2 linked regions of the Homo sapiens genome follow. The protein of the gene in region 1 interacts with the protein of each later gene in a biochemical or structural test. Each region holds a gene or a part of one and is shown in the gene's direction. Other genes may lie near its edges.

Region 1 (7,856 bases):
CCAACCTACTTCTCTGGGCTGTCAGGTTCTGAACCCGGTCCTGAAGAGGCCCTGGCGCCGGGGGTGGGTGAGGCCGAGCGCGCGCCTTGGGAACCTGGCCGGCCTCAGGCTGGCGGGAGCATTGGCGGACATCGCCCTGGGCGGGGCGGACTGGGGGTAGACGGATCTGCCTCTGCGCCTAGCCCTGCCCTCCGCCGCCGCGCGAACGCGCGCGCCTCCCCGGCTAGTCCCGGCAGGCGGAGCCCCAGTTAGACTGCTCGTCAAGTGTGGGAAAAGCTCCGTGGCGTCACAAGCTACTATATAAAAGGCGGTGCCCGCCGGGGCCGAGTGGGAGTCCGCGGCGAGCGCAGCAGCAGGGCCCGGTCCTGCGCCTCGGGAGTCGGCGTCCAGGCTCGGAGCGCGACACGGAGACTAGGTGGCAGGTGAGGACGTCCCCGCGCACGGCCGGGGTGGAGCACGGGAGTGGCGAGCTTCAGGTCCACCGGCTGCCACCGAAAGATGGGACCTGAAGACAGGAGAGGTCGCTCAGCCAAGAGCCCCGGGGAGGCGGTGGTGTCTCGGCGGGGTCAGCAACGGTCTGTGGGGGGTCCCCTGCAGCGCGCAGCCGGTTTCCGCCTCCGCAGCTCCCAGCCAGCGCGGACGCCGCCCTCCCCGGCGCCTCCTCGCTGCCCTTCCCTGGCCGAAGCCCTCCCCTGCAGCCTCCTCCCCACCTGCCGGCCCTGTGTTCTCACTGCTCCTCTCTGCTCTGGGATCCGCAGGATGACGTCTGTCCTGGTTCTTCTTCTGTCTTTCAAAGTCACTAGTCTCCAGTTCTAAATCCGAGCACTCTTACCCATTCTAATTCTTTCAGTAACTCAGCGAAACGGATGGGGCCCTTCCTTCCCCGGAGCACTCCTCCAGGGACTGAGAATCTGCAGAGCCAGGCTCAGCGCTCGCCTGCAGAGCCTGCGGTCTGTGGGACCCGCCAGCAAGATGAGGAATCACTTTCGGGAGGAAGGGTCGTGCTGGGGAGGGTCGCGCCGGCGGGGTCAAGAGAACCTCCTCTAGGGTGGGAATCAGAGCCTCCGGGCCGCGGTGTTTGAGGGTGAGTGGAATTAATCCCGTGATGGACGTGGGGCCTTCTAAGGGGGACCAGGAGTTTGCGAAGAGGTGACTTTGGGAGGGGTTCAGGATGGCCAGAGGTGGAGGCTGTGACCTCAGTGAGGCTGGATCAAGGGAGGGGCAGGTGGAGAAGAAACCGTTTTAACGAGGTGGCTTTAAGCGGATCCTAAGGGCCCCAGGAGATTTAGGAGGAAGGACAAGAGGATTAAGACACCGCTTTCTGGTCGGGTGCGGTGGCTCACGCCTGTAATCCCAGCACTCTGGGAGGCCGAGGCGGGCGGATCACGAGGTCAGGAGATGGAGACCATCCTGGCTAACACTGTGAAACCCCGTCTCTACTAAAAAAAAGAAAAAAAAGAATACAAAAAAATAGCCGGGCGTGGTGGCGGGCGCCTGTAGTCCCAGCTACTCGGGAGGCTGAGGCAGGAGAATGGCGTGAACCCGGGAGGCGGAGCTTGCAGTGAGCTGAGATCGCGCCACTGCACTCCAGCACTCCAGCCTGGGCGACAGAGCCAGACTCCGTCTCAAAAAAAAAAAAAAAAAAAAAAAAAAAGACACGGCTTTCTGAGGTGCCGTGCGGCTGTGGCGGGGGTGGCTGGGGGTGCGGGTTGTGTTCATTGTCCAAGGCTCTCCAGTGCTTTGCGTGGCGTTTTGGGGAGCACAGATGAGGTGTCCCGACAGTGGGGAGTGGCTCTAGGGAGACCAGAGGCTCGGGAGGGGGCCTGGGCATTAGACCAGGCACAGGATCCAAAGTGGGAAGAAATGTGGGCGTAGAGGGCAGGCCTTGGAGATGGGTGTGGGGGAGGAGGGGGAGATGGAAAGGAGTCAGGGAGGTCTCCCAGGCTCACCTGGAGGAGTCAGGGTCTCATTTCCAAGTGCACTGGGAACTGCAGCCTGGGGGTGGGGGTTCATTTGGTTTCAGGCCTGTGGCCAAGAGACCTACCCCCTCATATTCACACTTTGGCCTCCACGGGCTTCAGAGATAGTACCAGCTCTTTGTTCTCGCTGGTTTTCTTTCCTCACCTTGGGCTGTTTCTTGCCTTTTCCATTCTGGTGTTCTGCAAGGACCAGTTCCTTCATCTCATGCACAGTCTACACTCATGGCTTTTGCTGGGAGTAATGAGTAAAGCTCCCAAATAGATGTTTCTGAGTTAAAACACTGAACACAAAATGAAGCAAAAACAACGCATTTCCAACCTCCCAAGGTCACATGATGTCTAGAGGACAGTGATGGGCAATAACTTTTTGTCTTCCCCATTAGAATGCAAGCTCCACGAATGGAACGTGGAGTTTTTTATTTTTTATTGTTTTTTGAGACGGAGTCTGGCTCTGTCACCCAGGCTGGAGCAATCTTGGCTCACTGCAACCTCCGCCTTCTGGGTTCAAGCAATTCTCCCGCCTCAGCCTCCTGAGTAGCTGGGTCTACAGGCATGCACCACCACGCCCAGCTAATTTTTGTATTTTTAGTAGAGACGAGGTTTCATCATGTTTGCCAGGCTGGTCCGGAACCCCTGAGCTCAGGCAATCCGCCCGACTTGGCCTCCCAAAGTGCTAGGATTACAGGTGTGAGCCACTACACACGGCCAGAACATAGAGATTTTTTGTGTTTAATTCACAACCGAGTCTTCAGTGCCTAGAACAGGTGCTCAGTAAATATTTACTGAAGGAATGAATTCCTTTTTGTATTTCTTGTATCTATCACCAGATGCTCTTGTATCTAGTACCTGCTTGGCATACAGTAGATAGAAAGCTTTGCTGAGTGAATAGCTCTGCCTTTCGTCTTTTTTGATATGTGTACATCTTTTAAAAAATAATGAATAGACTTTGTTTTAGAGCTGTTTTGGTTTACAGCAAAACTAAGCAGAAAGAAAATATCCCCTTCCACAAACATCCTGGACTGTACAGCCTCCCCTACCATCAACATCCTGCATTACTGTGGAATATTTGTCACACCTGATAAACCAACATAGATTCATGGTTACAAAAATGAACCAATATGGATAAAACATATACATTATCAGCCAAAGTCCGGAGTTTGTTAGGTTTTGCTCTTTGTGTATATTCAAGATACATTTGACAAATGTATAGAGATGTACCCAACCCTGTAACGTCAGACTCCACTGCCCTAAAAATCCCTTGTGCCTCACCTATCCATCCCTCCTTCCCTGCAAATCCCTGGCAGCCGCTGATCTTTTTTACTATCTCCGTAGTTTTTCCTTTTCCAGAATGTCACATAGTTGGAATCATGCATTATGTAGTCTTCTCAGATTGGCTTCTTTCACTTAGATTTATACATTTAGGATTGCTCCAGGATTTTTTTTTTTTTTTTTTTTTTTGTGGCTTCAGAGCTCATTTCTTTTTAGCACTTAATATTCCATTGTATAGATGTACCACAGCTTATCTGTCCACCCATTAAGTGATATCTTGGATGCCCTCAAGTTTTGGCAATTATGAATAAAGCTGCTATAGACATTCTTGTACAGGTGTTTGTATGGGCATAAGCTTTCAACTCGTTTGGGTAAATACCAAGGTGTGGAGTTGCTTCATCTTATGGTAAGAAGAGCTTGGTTAAGAAATTGCCAAAATGTCTTCCAGACTCTAACATTAGGCATTCCCACTAGGAATGTATGGGAGTTCCTTGTGCTCCAGATCCTCATCAACATTTGTTGTTGTCAGTGTTCTGAATTTTAGCCATTCTAATAAATGTGTAATAGTATTTGTTTTTTTAAATTGCAATTCTTTAATGACATGATGTTGAGCATCTTTTCATATGCATATACATATGGTGAGGTGTATGTTCAGAGCTTTTGCCCGCCTTTAATCAAGTTGTACATTTTCATATTGTTGCATTTTAAGAGGGTTTTTTTTGGTATATTTTGGGTCACAGTGCTTTATCAGATATGTCTTTTGCAAATATTTTCTCCCAGTCTGTGGCTCGTGTTGTGAACGTGGCTAGTTCTCTTGACATACATATCTTTTCACAGTATGTAATCCTGTTGTGCTTTTTTTTTTTTTCCTTTTGAGACGGAATCTTGCTCTTGTCACCCAGGCTGGAGTGCAGTGGCGCGATCTCGGCTCACTACAATCTCCACCTCCCAGGTTCAAGGGATTCTCCTGCCTCAGCCTCCCGAGTAGCTGGGATTGCTGGTGCCCGCCACCACGCCCAGTTGATTTTTGTATTTTTTAGTAGAGATGGGGTTTCACCATGTTGGCCAGGCTGGTCTCGAACTGCTGACCTCAAGTGATCCGCCCGCCTTGGCTTCCCAAAGTGCTGGGATTACAGGCGTGAACAACCGCGCCCGGCCTGATGTGCATATAATTTTATTATTTGATTTTTAATATACATGAATAGCATGCAGTTCCAACTTTGCTCGAGACTTCACAATTACCATTTTAAAGGGCTGCAAAATAATCACATTTCCTCCTCAACAGCCCCACTTTACAGATGAAGGTAGAGGAATGCTAACTTGCCTATGCTAACCCGCAGAGCTCTGAATCCTCCGGATAGCGCCCCCGCTGTAATCCACCCAGTGCTTCCCTCCAGACCCTTCTCCCTCTCGTGCGCGCGGAGGTTTCGGTTTCCTCTTTTACGTAGGCCGCCCCACTCGCTTGAAAACAAAGTCCGCGATCCTCTAGCCCGCAAGAGAGCTCCGGGACTCAGACCCCGGGCGCGAGGTCCCACGAGCGGCGGGGCGGCGCTCTCGCGGTCCTCCTCCCCGGCAAGGGCCGGGGCAGGGGGAGGAGGCAGCGCGAACAGTCCACGCCCTCCAGCCGGGCGCGCTCGACGCGGACGGCGGGCCAGCTGCCGGAGCGCGGCGACTCCAGGGGACCCACAGCTGGGGCGCCAGAGCGCGGCCATCCGGGCGGGGCCGACGGAGCGCGGCAGGACTTGGCTGGACGGCGCGGCCACGGAGAAGGGCGCGGTGAGCGGACTGGCACCGCGCGGGGAACATTCCGGAGGCCGCCGGGCTCAGTCCCGGTGACCCCCCTGGTCGGGGTTCGCGCGCCCTCCCCCAGCACGCCCGGGCAAGGCTGCCGCGGCGTCGGAGTAATCCCCAACCCTCCGCCGCCGCTTCTTCCCTCACCCGGGCCTCCAGACGTTTGCCGCGGAAACGAAAGTAACGCTCGGGTGCTTGCGTGGAGGCCGGGGCGGCCGCGGGCTTCCCGGAAGGAGAGGGACTCTGCCCGGGGTGCGCGCGGCGGGCGGGCCCCGCCGGTACCGGAAGTCGGGCGGTGGGCGGGGCCGCGGGCGCTCCCGGAAGTCAGGGGTGCTCCGCTAGGTGTCTCTGCTTATCCGGAGTCCGCTGGCCGCCTCTGTGCCAGAGGTCGGGGCGCTGGACTGGTAGCGGGCGGAGACCTGCCTTTGGGCCGCGGTTACCGCGTGAGGGTGGAATAGGCAGTCCCACACGCCATTAATGTTGTTTTGGTGGAGAAGGTGGGCTCCTAGTGCCCTATCATTAAGAAAAAACAGTTTGGGCTCTTCCCTTACCAGCCCTTTGAAAGGGCCTTTTACTGTTGCGCTTGAGGCCGCAGCAGGTTCCAAAAACAAAAGCATTTCTGCGTGATCTTAGACGACTGAGGGGACGAATGTGGTAACCCTAGCAGGCTTCTGTCACTGGCAGGTGCTTTTGTGAAGTGCTGCGGACCCTCTTGAGGGTTGGGAAGAGGATAGGCTGCATCCTCCTTCCCTAAGCATTTGACAAAGCCTCACAGGGATGCGGGGGTTGCGGGGGCAGGGGGAGGTCTGGGGTTGTTAGTTCTTTCTCTCTTGCTGACCATTTGGCTCTCCCTTAATCAGAGCTCTTTTTTATTTTGGGCAAAGCAGGAGGCTGTTCCAATGATTAATTCTTCCCTGACTTACACTTGAAGAAGCCAAGGCAGGAAGTGAACTTTGAAATGTGCAATGTCTTAGTACTCATCTGCATTCTGTGACTGCTAGGAAGATGGACTGAGTCAAGAGGAAATTGTCTTGTTAGAAATGTGGAATACTGCGTCGGGCACGGTGGCTCACTCCTGTAATCCGAGCACTTCGGAGGCCGAGGTGGGAGGATCACCTGAGGTCAGGAGTTCGAGACCAGCCTGGCCAACATGGCAAAACCCTGTCTCTACTAAAAATACAAAAATTAGCCAGGTGTGGTGGCGGGTCCCTGTAATCCCAGCTACGCGGGAGGCTGAGGCAGGAGAATGGCTTGAACCCAGGAGGCGGTAGTTGCAGTGAGCCGAGATTGCCACTTACACTCTATCCTGGGCGACAGAGGGAGACTCTGTATCAAAAAAAAAAATAAATAAAGAAATGGGGAATACTGCAGCTCTTCTATTCACAAAAAGTGAAGACTAGGCTTGTTTAAAATGAAATTTGGAGTGTATCATTATTACTGATAAAATAGCAAAAATGATAACTTTTAATACTCATTTTCCTCTGTCTGAACTATACTGAGCCTCAGAGATATGTTGTACTTTCTGGAATGTGAATATTAATGAGTATTAAGAAAAGCTCTTAAACAGCCTCTTTCAAACTGGGCAGCTTACTTTTTGGTGCTTATTAATCTATAACGTGTTAACATCCATATGATCTGGGAATTTGAAGAAAATACTTAATTTCCCATGCTTTAGTTGGATATTACATTCTGGCAAAAAAGGTTGACTGTATTAATCTGTAGAACATTGATTTTGAACCATATATTTCAAAAATACATGAGCCGTGTATTTTTATTTTTGAGACAGAGTCTTGCTCTGTCACCCAGGCTGGAGTGCAGTGGCGCGATCGCGGCTTAATGTAACCTTCGCCTCCCGGGTTCAAGCAGTTCTCCTGCCTCAGCCTCCCAAGAAGCTGGGATTGTAGGCATGCACTACCATGCCTGGCTAATTTTTGTATTTTTAGTAGAGACAGGGCTTCACCACGTTGGCCAATCTGGTCTCAAACTCTTGGCAATCTGCCCTCCTTGGCCTCCCAAAGTGCTGGGATTACAGGCATGAGCCCCTGCACCTCACCTTCCTGTATTTAAAAAGTTTATTCTGTACTTTCTCCGTGTTTCTGACTGTCGCACATTTATTTAATATAGATGAGTAAGGCTGTAAGGGTGGGTCTTTGCATCTGGATTTTTCCGAAGACAGATTATTTGCTATCTAGAGAAGTAGCATGTATTAGTGAGCCAATAGTGAAAGTTTGAATGAAGGGACAAATATTTCATTCCAGGATCCTACCACTTTAGGTGAATCACTTAGCTCCAAATCTTAGTTTCTTTATTTGCAAATTGAAATCATGATAAAATTTGCTTCAGGGGTTATGATGCTTGTTTAAACTCTGTTTCAATTCTTGTCTCTTGCTGGTCCTTAAGTCTCTTCCTTGCTCAGAGCTTTTGTTTATCCAGGCAAAGCATCAGGCTGCTGTAATCAAGGAAGTTGGAGAAATCCTCTGGTCACTTGGATAGCTGAGCAAAATCAGAATTCTGTTAGTGGGAAGAAAGGGGGCAATGGCAGGTGGGCAACCAGCATTTTCTGCCATTCTCTTGTTATGTGTGGTCATCATAGAAAAATGGGGAAAAAGTTAATTAGAATATTTTGATATGTATACTTACCCTGCCTTAGAAGGTAATCGTGAAATTCCTTGAGATTTCACATTAATTTCAATAGAAACAAATTCACTGTCCTGAGTCCCTGAATTAATATTTATGCAAAACATTTACAAATTCCTTCAAATGGACGTAATTATTAGTTAAAATTATTTGCTATAACAGGCCAGCATGTCTTTGTCA
Region 2 (7,930 bases), on another chromosome or scaffold:
TTGATCTGGTTGATAGTTAACTGAGTACATTCATTTGTCAAAATCATAAAGCTATACGCTTTTAATATCTGTGTACTTTACATGATATAAATTATATTTTATTAGAGTACTATCAGTATAAAATAAAGTAAGCCACCATTTATGAGGGGTAAACTTCATTATCTTGACTAAAGCTTTACATTAGAGGAGGTTTCTTTGTAAATTTGATCTTCGTTAGCACTTATTCAAGGCTGGTGTAATTGTATTTTATTTGCAAGATGTTAGAAAGTTATCAACAGACCAGGAAATTGTCAACATTTACAAGGACTCTCAGATTTGCTTTGGAATTAGAACAGTATGTTCCCTGTAAGATTTCACTTTCACTTTCAGTTCTAGATTCCTGGGTTTCTTTATACATAAAAATCTAAAAACTTACAGTGAAAAAGCATTAGGCTACAACTAAAGTTGTTACAACATTATGCGAAATTCCCTCCAGAGAAAAAATATTTTTAATAATAATTCCCCCAAGGGAAAAATACTTTTAAATTGATTATTTGATAATAGGATATTGAGAGCATACCGCTCTCAGGAATTGTCAGAGTTCTGAGCCAGGAATGGGATGAAAAACTCTGTCATTCATACCTTGCTCATACACTGACAGTAGAAAAAAACTGGAAAACCAAGAGGCCAAGTGTGGTGGCTCATGTCTATAATCCCAGCACTTTGGGAGGTCAAGGCAGATAGATGACTTGAGCCCAAGAGGCCAGCCAGGGCAACATCGCAAGGCTCTGTCTCTATAAAAAATACAAAAATTAGCCAAGCATGGTAGCCCGTGACTGTAGTCAGAACTACTCAGGAGGCTGAGATGGGAGGATTGATTGAGCCCAGTAGGTTGAGGTTATAGTGAGCTGAGATTGTGCCACCGCATTTCAGCCTGGGTGACATTTCAGCCTGAGAACAAGGCTCTGTCTCAAAAAAATAAAAATGAGAAAACAACAACAAAAAAACCACAAACAAACCTAGAAAACTGAAGATAGTAATGGCTATACAGTTTGTGTCTAGCTTTCACTTTCCTCAAAGGTTTCCTTGTGTATTTCTGTCGTGAAAAGAGTATTTGGAGCTTGGAATTCACTGGCTTGGAAGAAAATAAGAGTATTTGGAGAGAAAATATATTTAGGCTGTGCTTGCTTTGGCAGCACATATACTAAAATTGGAACCCTACCAAGAAGATTAGCATGCCCCCTGCACAAGGATAACAGCTGGATGTTGAAAGGAAAAGAGGAGTTTTTTTAATAAAGTATGTGAGATATACAAAGAGTTAGAAAGAAAATGCAAGGTAGGTTACACCATTAAAGATGTGGATGCAGGTTTAGAATAGAGAAAGCCCAAGTGGATAGTTTGGATAGATTGGCTCTATTTTTGTTAGTCAGTAAACAAAGGTTTACTGAGCACCTTTGAGCAGACACTCTACTAGTACTAGAATAATGCAGTGAACAAATATATACAGTGCTTGCCCATACACATTTATCTAGGGAAACCATTTTTTTTTTAATTGTGCAAAATGTTGCAAAGCAGACATGTTAATTTGCTTCCAACCTACTAGGCCTGACCCTAGCTCTCATGACCAGTTTGAAAAACGCGAGACTCAGTCAATTCAGGGATTTCTTAAGCCATGGTCTTTATTTATTTTTATTTATTTACTTTTTTGGCAATGGATTCTTGCTCTCTCTCCCAGGCTGGAGTGCAGTAGCGAGATCTCAGCTCACTGTAACCTCTGCCTCCCCGGGTTCAAGCAATTCTCCTGCCTCAGCCTCCCAAGTAGCTGGGATTACAGGCACCTGCCACCATGACCCGCTTATCTTTGTATTTTTAGTAGAAATGGGGTTTTGCCATGTTGACCAGGCTGGTCTCGAACTCCTGACCTCCGGTGATCCACACACCTCAGCCTCCCAAAGTGCTGGGATTACAGGTGTGAGCCAATGTGCCTGGCCAGCCATAGTTTTTAAACTGGGGTAAGTGTGCCCCTGGGTGTTTACAAAGACTTACCAACAGGGAGGTGGGAGCTCAAATAGTTTTAAGGAATTAATAGTCTCACTCTCAACTTCCATATGTAGCTTCTCCCAAAACTGATCTGCTTGAAAACAAGAACTGTGAAGGTTGCCAGGGTTGTTCTGTCTTCTCATCTCCCTTTTCACAATGGTTCTCTGTCTTCCCTTAAAAGACAGGCTCACCTCTCACCTATCATGAGTTTTAAAATCGTATATTTCTCTGGGTGTAGAAACCTCCTGGATGATTTGAAATAATCGATCTGTATTAGTGTTGAGAAAATGAATGACTCTAATATCTGGATATAGGGTTGCCAGGTAAAATACAGAACACCAAACTGAATCTAAATTTCAGATAACTAATGAATAACTTATTAGTATAGCTAGGTGCCAAATATTGCACAATACATTCTTATACTGGAAATGCATTCATTGTTTATATTAAACCAAAATTTAACTAGGTGTTCTCTGTTTTAATTTGCTAACTCTGTCAACTGTATCTGGATACCAAAAGTTCAGTGGTTTCTAAACCACCAATTTCAACAAAATTGAGTTGTCTACTGATAAGTAATTACATATTTTGATTAGAGATCACTAAATGATTTTTGGAATATAAAACATATTTTTTAAATTGTGAAAAAATTGCCATAATAATGTTTCTTCTGGGCCTATCTACTTATCTACTTACTTCTGTGAAATAAGGTTTACAACATTTATGTCTGTAGAAATGAAAAAAGGAACAGAATCTGTGCTGAACCCTAACATATTATAGCTATAGGTAATATTCATGACTGCACACTTGAAAAACTTGCTTAAAATACAAGCTGCCACCCCCTTAAATTGTATTTGTAATGCAGTTATTAACATTTACGATATTTTTATATTGTATTGACCAATTATGCTTTAAAAGTAATGAAAACAATATCAATGATAATGTAATCAAAGAGGATTTTTTTTTTTTTTTTTTGAGATGCAGTCTCACTCTGTTCCAGGGCTGGAGTGCAGTGGCACTGTCTTGACTCATTGCAACCTCTGCCTCCCAGGTTCAAGTGATTCTTGTGCCTCAGCCTCCCAAGTAGCTGGGACTACAGGCGTGCACCACCACACTTGGCTCATTTTTGTATTTTTGGGAGAGACCGGTTTCACCATGTTGGCCAGACTGGTCTTGAACTCCTGACCTCAGATGATCCACCCACCTTCGCCTCCCAAAGTGCTGGTATTATAGGCGTGAGCCACCATGCCTGGTCAAAGAGGAATTTTTTTTTTTTTTAACACTTAGATCCTTATGATCCCAGAGAAAAAAATAGATTTCAAGTTCTAATATGTATTTGTTTCAGAGATATGTGACAGAGAGATGATAAAAGATGTTCAGTACAAACATGTATTAACATTCTGTAGGGGAATTGGAATGTTCAATGACAAAAGGCAATGATAAAATATTTTCAGTTATTAAAGATGACCTGATAATTGCTTCATGGATGATCATGTATGTCAAATTACTATGGTATTAGGATCCATCAAATACATTTAAAAGAGTGCTCTATCAATTTTTTCTGAAAATATCTATGTTTACATTTTGTAGATTCTTGACATGTACAAGAGCTTTATGTTTTAATGTTAAGTTAAAAATGGGCAAGGGAATGCAGAGCTTTTCAAAATTCTTCTGGTGAGTACATAATCAAAAATGTGTAAGGCCTGCAAATTATTTTCAATAATCTCAGGAGTGAGTTGAAAATGGCTTAGAAAGTCTTGATTGAAGCAGACTCAAATGTGGATTAAAATCTCCATATGATAAATACACTTAGTCTTTCTGAAATAATTCCAACTGGAACTTCAGCTGCTATGGACAGCCAAGTCCACCTAAACAAGAGGATGCCTCAGCTCAGTCCAATTGCGTGCAGAATGCACTGGATGCTGTTTCCACAGAACGATGAAGTCTCCAATAATCTTTATGGGCTCTGTCTCTGGTTGGTAATTGTCTTTGATCTACTGGAAGATAGAAAATCAGATGAGCTCTCCAAATCCATCTGTTACCCTGGTACGGATGGCTCTCAGATAAAGTTGCTTAAATTTACTGCTTAGAGAACGTTGAGGGAAATATGGCAGTGCAATTAGACTCAAAGATGTCAGGTTTCCCTGAGAATGGCACTGCAACTCAGAAACCTGCCCTGTGAGATCAAAGGCTATAAAGGAGGGATTTTTTTAAGTAGCCAACTCCACCCTACTTATTAAAAAAAAAAAAAAAACAACTCACCAAACCAAACAAAAGTATTTCCATACAGAAAATTTACCAAGCCATTTCAATCTTTAAAATGGTAAAATAAACTGCAAAGGAGAACTGCATGATTTTTTTCACATACCCCTACATTTCCTTTCACCTCTTACTTTCTTGATCAGAACAAAAAGTAAAAATAAATAGAAATATTTCACAAAGTTTCGATTTTTTTTTTTTTAAATGCTGGACTTCTGCAGCTATAGTAGAAGATTGAAAAACCTAACCTTTTTACGTGTAAAGTGTATGGCGGATGGAGGGTGGAGAACAGGGCATATTGACCTTTTCCAGGCAGGCTAAGCAATGATCGTCCTCTCTATATGGGTTGTTATCAAGATTTCCTCTGACCCACGAGCAATGAAGCAAATGTCTTTCAGTAAATGCCGCGAAGATATGCCACGGTTAAGAGTCATGCTTTTGGGTCATGGAAATCCCCGAGTGGGTTTGCCAGGCCACTGATTAAGAGGAAGTGTGTGTGGTTATTACCGCTGGAGTTCCCCTAAGTCCTAAAAGGAAAGCACCAGTGCACATGCAAACCACTGGGAGGAGTGCGGAACGCCTGGTACAGATAGGGGTGGGGATTTGGGTGACGCATTTAAAAGACAGCGTGAGACTCGCGCCCTCCGGCACGGAAAAGGCCAGGCGACAGGTGTCGCTTGAAAAGACTGGGCTTGTCCTTGCTGGTGCATGCGTCGTCGGCCTCTGGGCAGCAGGTGGGCAAGGAAGGCTGGTGTGTGTGTGTGTGTGTGTGCGTGTGTGTGTGTGTATGTGTGCGCGCGCGCGCGCCTCCCCTGGTGTAAGAGATGTGCCAGCGGCTGGCCGAGGGGCGCTTAGGGCTAGAGCCCGGGGCGCTGCAGAGGTTGAGAGTCAGTGGGTGGGGCGCAGTTATCAAACACCAGGGCCCAAAAGCAGGCTCTAGATAGGTTCCAGGTGCTCAATTTCTATTTCACGTTTGGAGTGAGCCAGTGGAATTGTGAAGTTGTGGCATTTTGATTCGGTTGCCAAGAGTTATCACTGGGCCTTTGCAGGTGCCAAATAAATTTCAGGACAGAGCCTAAGGCAGAGCTCTGGCACAGGAAGGAAGTAAAACGTTTAATGAGCAAATGGACGCATGTTTCCAAGCGGTGGTAGGAAGACAGCAGTTTTTGGTTGTCTTCCTGGTGATCAGCATGGAAACCTAGTAGTGCTCTTACTCTGATCAATACATTGTCGAAGGCATGTACCTGATGCTAACGTAACAATAATATTAAATATTGACTTTATTTGCTATTATTTATTGCTAACATTAAGTACTGCTACCTGCTATGTGCTAGGTTTGTCTCTGAAGACTTTACATGTATTTTTCACGTTTAATTATCATAATCTTAAGAAGCAGGTACCATAATTATCTCCATTTGACAATGAGGAAACTGAGGCTCTTGGAGATTTACTTGTGCAAGGTCATGCTTCTGGTTACCGGACTGCTTGGTATTGGGCACCCCCGATGTCTGACTCCAAAGCCTGATACTAATCAATCACTGAGCTGACTCTGTGGTCATTAATATAAAATTGATAGAAGTACTGTGGTCACTCAGGTCTCAGTCATTTACTTCTTCAACGGGAAGTCTTCGTGTCTACCCCATATACCAAGCTCTGCAGATGCTATGAGTGGGAGGGCAGGTACAGAGATGAAACATATTAATAGTTGCCATTCTAAAAGAGCTTACTGTCTAGCGGGAGGCAGAAAGAAAAGGCACACTTGCCCTCCAGTGTCAGAAAAATGGATGTGCTGCATGCCCAAAGGGTAGGGATGCCCAACAGCCCTGGGACTGGGGAGGTTGCCTTCTTGGTAGGTTAAATGAATGAGTCAGAAGAGGAGAGGCTGGGGACTGAGCCAATCTGAGAAGGAACCACTAGAAATGAAAGAAGAATCCCAAGAGCTTGGTATCAGAGAAGCCCAGGGAATGGGACATTTCTAAGAGGAAGTGTGTCCCAGTGTCAGATGCAAACATTTCCATTGGTTTTAGCAAAAAAGCCATTGGTGTTATTAACACCGAAAGCAGTTTTAAGTGATGCTGACTTAATGAGTAAATGGGAGAGGGAAAATGGAGACATTAACCATACACACATGTCCAGTTTGCTTGGCTGTGAAGAGAAGGGGTGATACAGGGTAGTTGCTAGAGTGGAAAGTGTGGTTGAAAGAGGATTTTTTTTTTTTTTTTTTGAGACAGAGTCTCACTCTGTCACCCAGGCTGGAGTGCAGTGGTGCAGTCTCGGCTTACTGCAACCTCCACCTCCCGGGTTCAAGCGATTCTCCTGCCTCAGCCTCCTGAGCAGCTGGGACTACAGGTGCATGCCACCACACCCGGCTAATTTTTTGTATTTTTTTTAGTAGAGACGGGGTTTCACCGTGTTAGCCAGGATGGTCTCAGTCTCCTGACCTCGTGATCCACTCGCCTCAGCCTCCTGAAGTGCTGGGATTACAGGCATGAGCCACCACACCCGGCCGAAAGAGAATTTTAAAAATTTCTTTCATTTGAAAGTTGAGATAGATTTAAGCATGGTTATGTGAAAGGAAAAAGGCCAGTCGAGAGTGACAGGAATGAGAGTTGAAGCAATGAGGGGATGGGATTAAGAACAAGATTTCTGAGGCAGTAGGACAGTGTAGGATCCCATAAGGGGGCAAGTCTTTAACTGAGACAGCAAGTAGGTTGTGAGCCAAAACGGCTTGGATATGAGAACGTGAGAAGGTTCCTGCTCAATGATGTCTCTTTTCTTTGAGAAACAGAAGGCAAAGTAATTGACTGAAAATGAGATGGAGTGCAGTGGAGAAATTTGAGGAAGGTGTTGAAGGTTTAGAAGAGGTGCATAGGGCATGGGCTAGGGAGCTGAGCCTATTGCTAAGGGATGGCAGAGGAGTCTTAAGTGATGCTGGTCCCAGTCTGCAGGGTTGCATCTAGGTGTTGGAAATGATTAGGACAGAGGTTGAAGTGATCTAGGGTTGACATCTTGGCATATTTGTGTATATTTATTGTATAGTTGTTGCCTAAATTTCCACAAATATATGCCTTGCTGGAGTGCAGTGGTGTGATCTTGGCTTACTGCAACCTTCACCTCCCGGGTTCAAGTGATTCTCCTGCTTCAGTCTCCTGAGTAGCTGGAAATACAGGTGCGTGCCACCACGCCCGATGGTTTTTTTTTTTGGATTTTTAGTAGAGACAGGGTTTCACCATGTTGGCCAGCCTGGTCTCGAACTCCTGATCTCAAGTTATCTGCTTTCCTTGGCCTCCCAAAGTGCTGGGATTACAGGCGTGAGCCACCACGCCTGACCTAAAGCTTCTTTAGGATAAGATTTGTGTAAGGGGTTTGCAAACTCAAATGGAGGTGATATAAATGAGAAAAACTCTCAGTGTCTCTCTTTCTCTCTCTCTCTCTTTTTTTGAGACAGGGTCTTGCTCTGTCACCCAGTTTGGAGTGCAGTTATGCAGTCTCACACTGCAAGCTCTGCCTCATGGGCTCAAGTGAACCTCCTGCCTCAGCCTCTCAAGTAGCTGGGACCACAGGCAGGTGCCACCATGTCTGGCTAATTTTTGAGTTTCTTTGTAGAGATGGTGTTTTGCCAAGTCACCCAGTTTGAGGCTGGTCTCAAACACCT

What was found.
Region 2: of the proteins of RIPK1 (region 1) and BIRC3, one has a biochemical effect on the other in vitro, tested with the Homo sapiens proteins (5 studies listed by BioGRID, with this or other methods).

The regions. Positions count from the first base shown.
Region 1 is NC_000006.12:3,063,638-3,071,493, forward strand, and holds the start of RIPK1 (receptor-interacting serine/threonine-protein kinase 1), read left to right. Parts: upstream 1-4,856; 5' UTR 4,857-5,024; exon of another isoform or gene 5,025-5,219; intron 5,220-5,419; exon of another isoform or gene 5,420-6,079; coding exon of another isoform or gene 6,080-6,142; intron 6,143-7,856. UniProt on the Homo sapiens protein: Serine-threonine kinase which is a key regulator of TNF-mediated apoptosis, necroptosis and inflammatory pathways.
Region 2 is NC_000011.10:102,312,563-102,320,492, forward strand, and holds the start of BIRC3 (baculoviral IAP repeat-containing protein 3), read left to right. Parts: upstream 1-4,921; 5' UTR 4,922-5,009; intron 5,010-7,930. UniProt on the Homo sapiens protein: Multi-functional protein which regulates not only caspases and apoptosis, but also modulates inflammatory signaling and immunity, mitogenic kinase signaling and cell proliferation, as well as cell invasion and metastasis.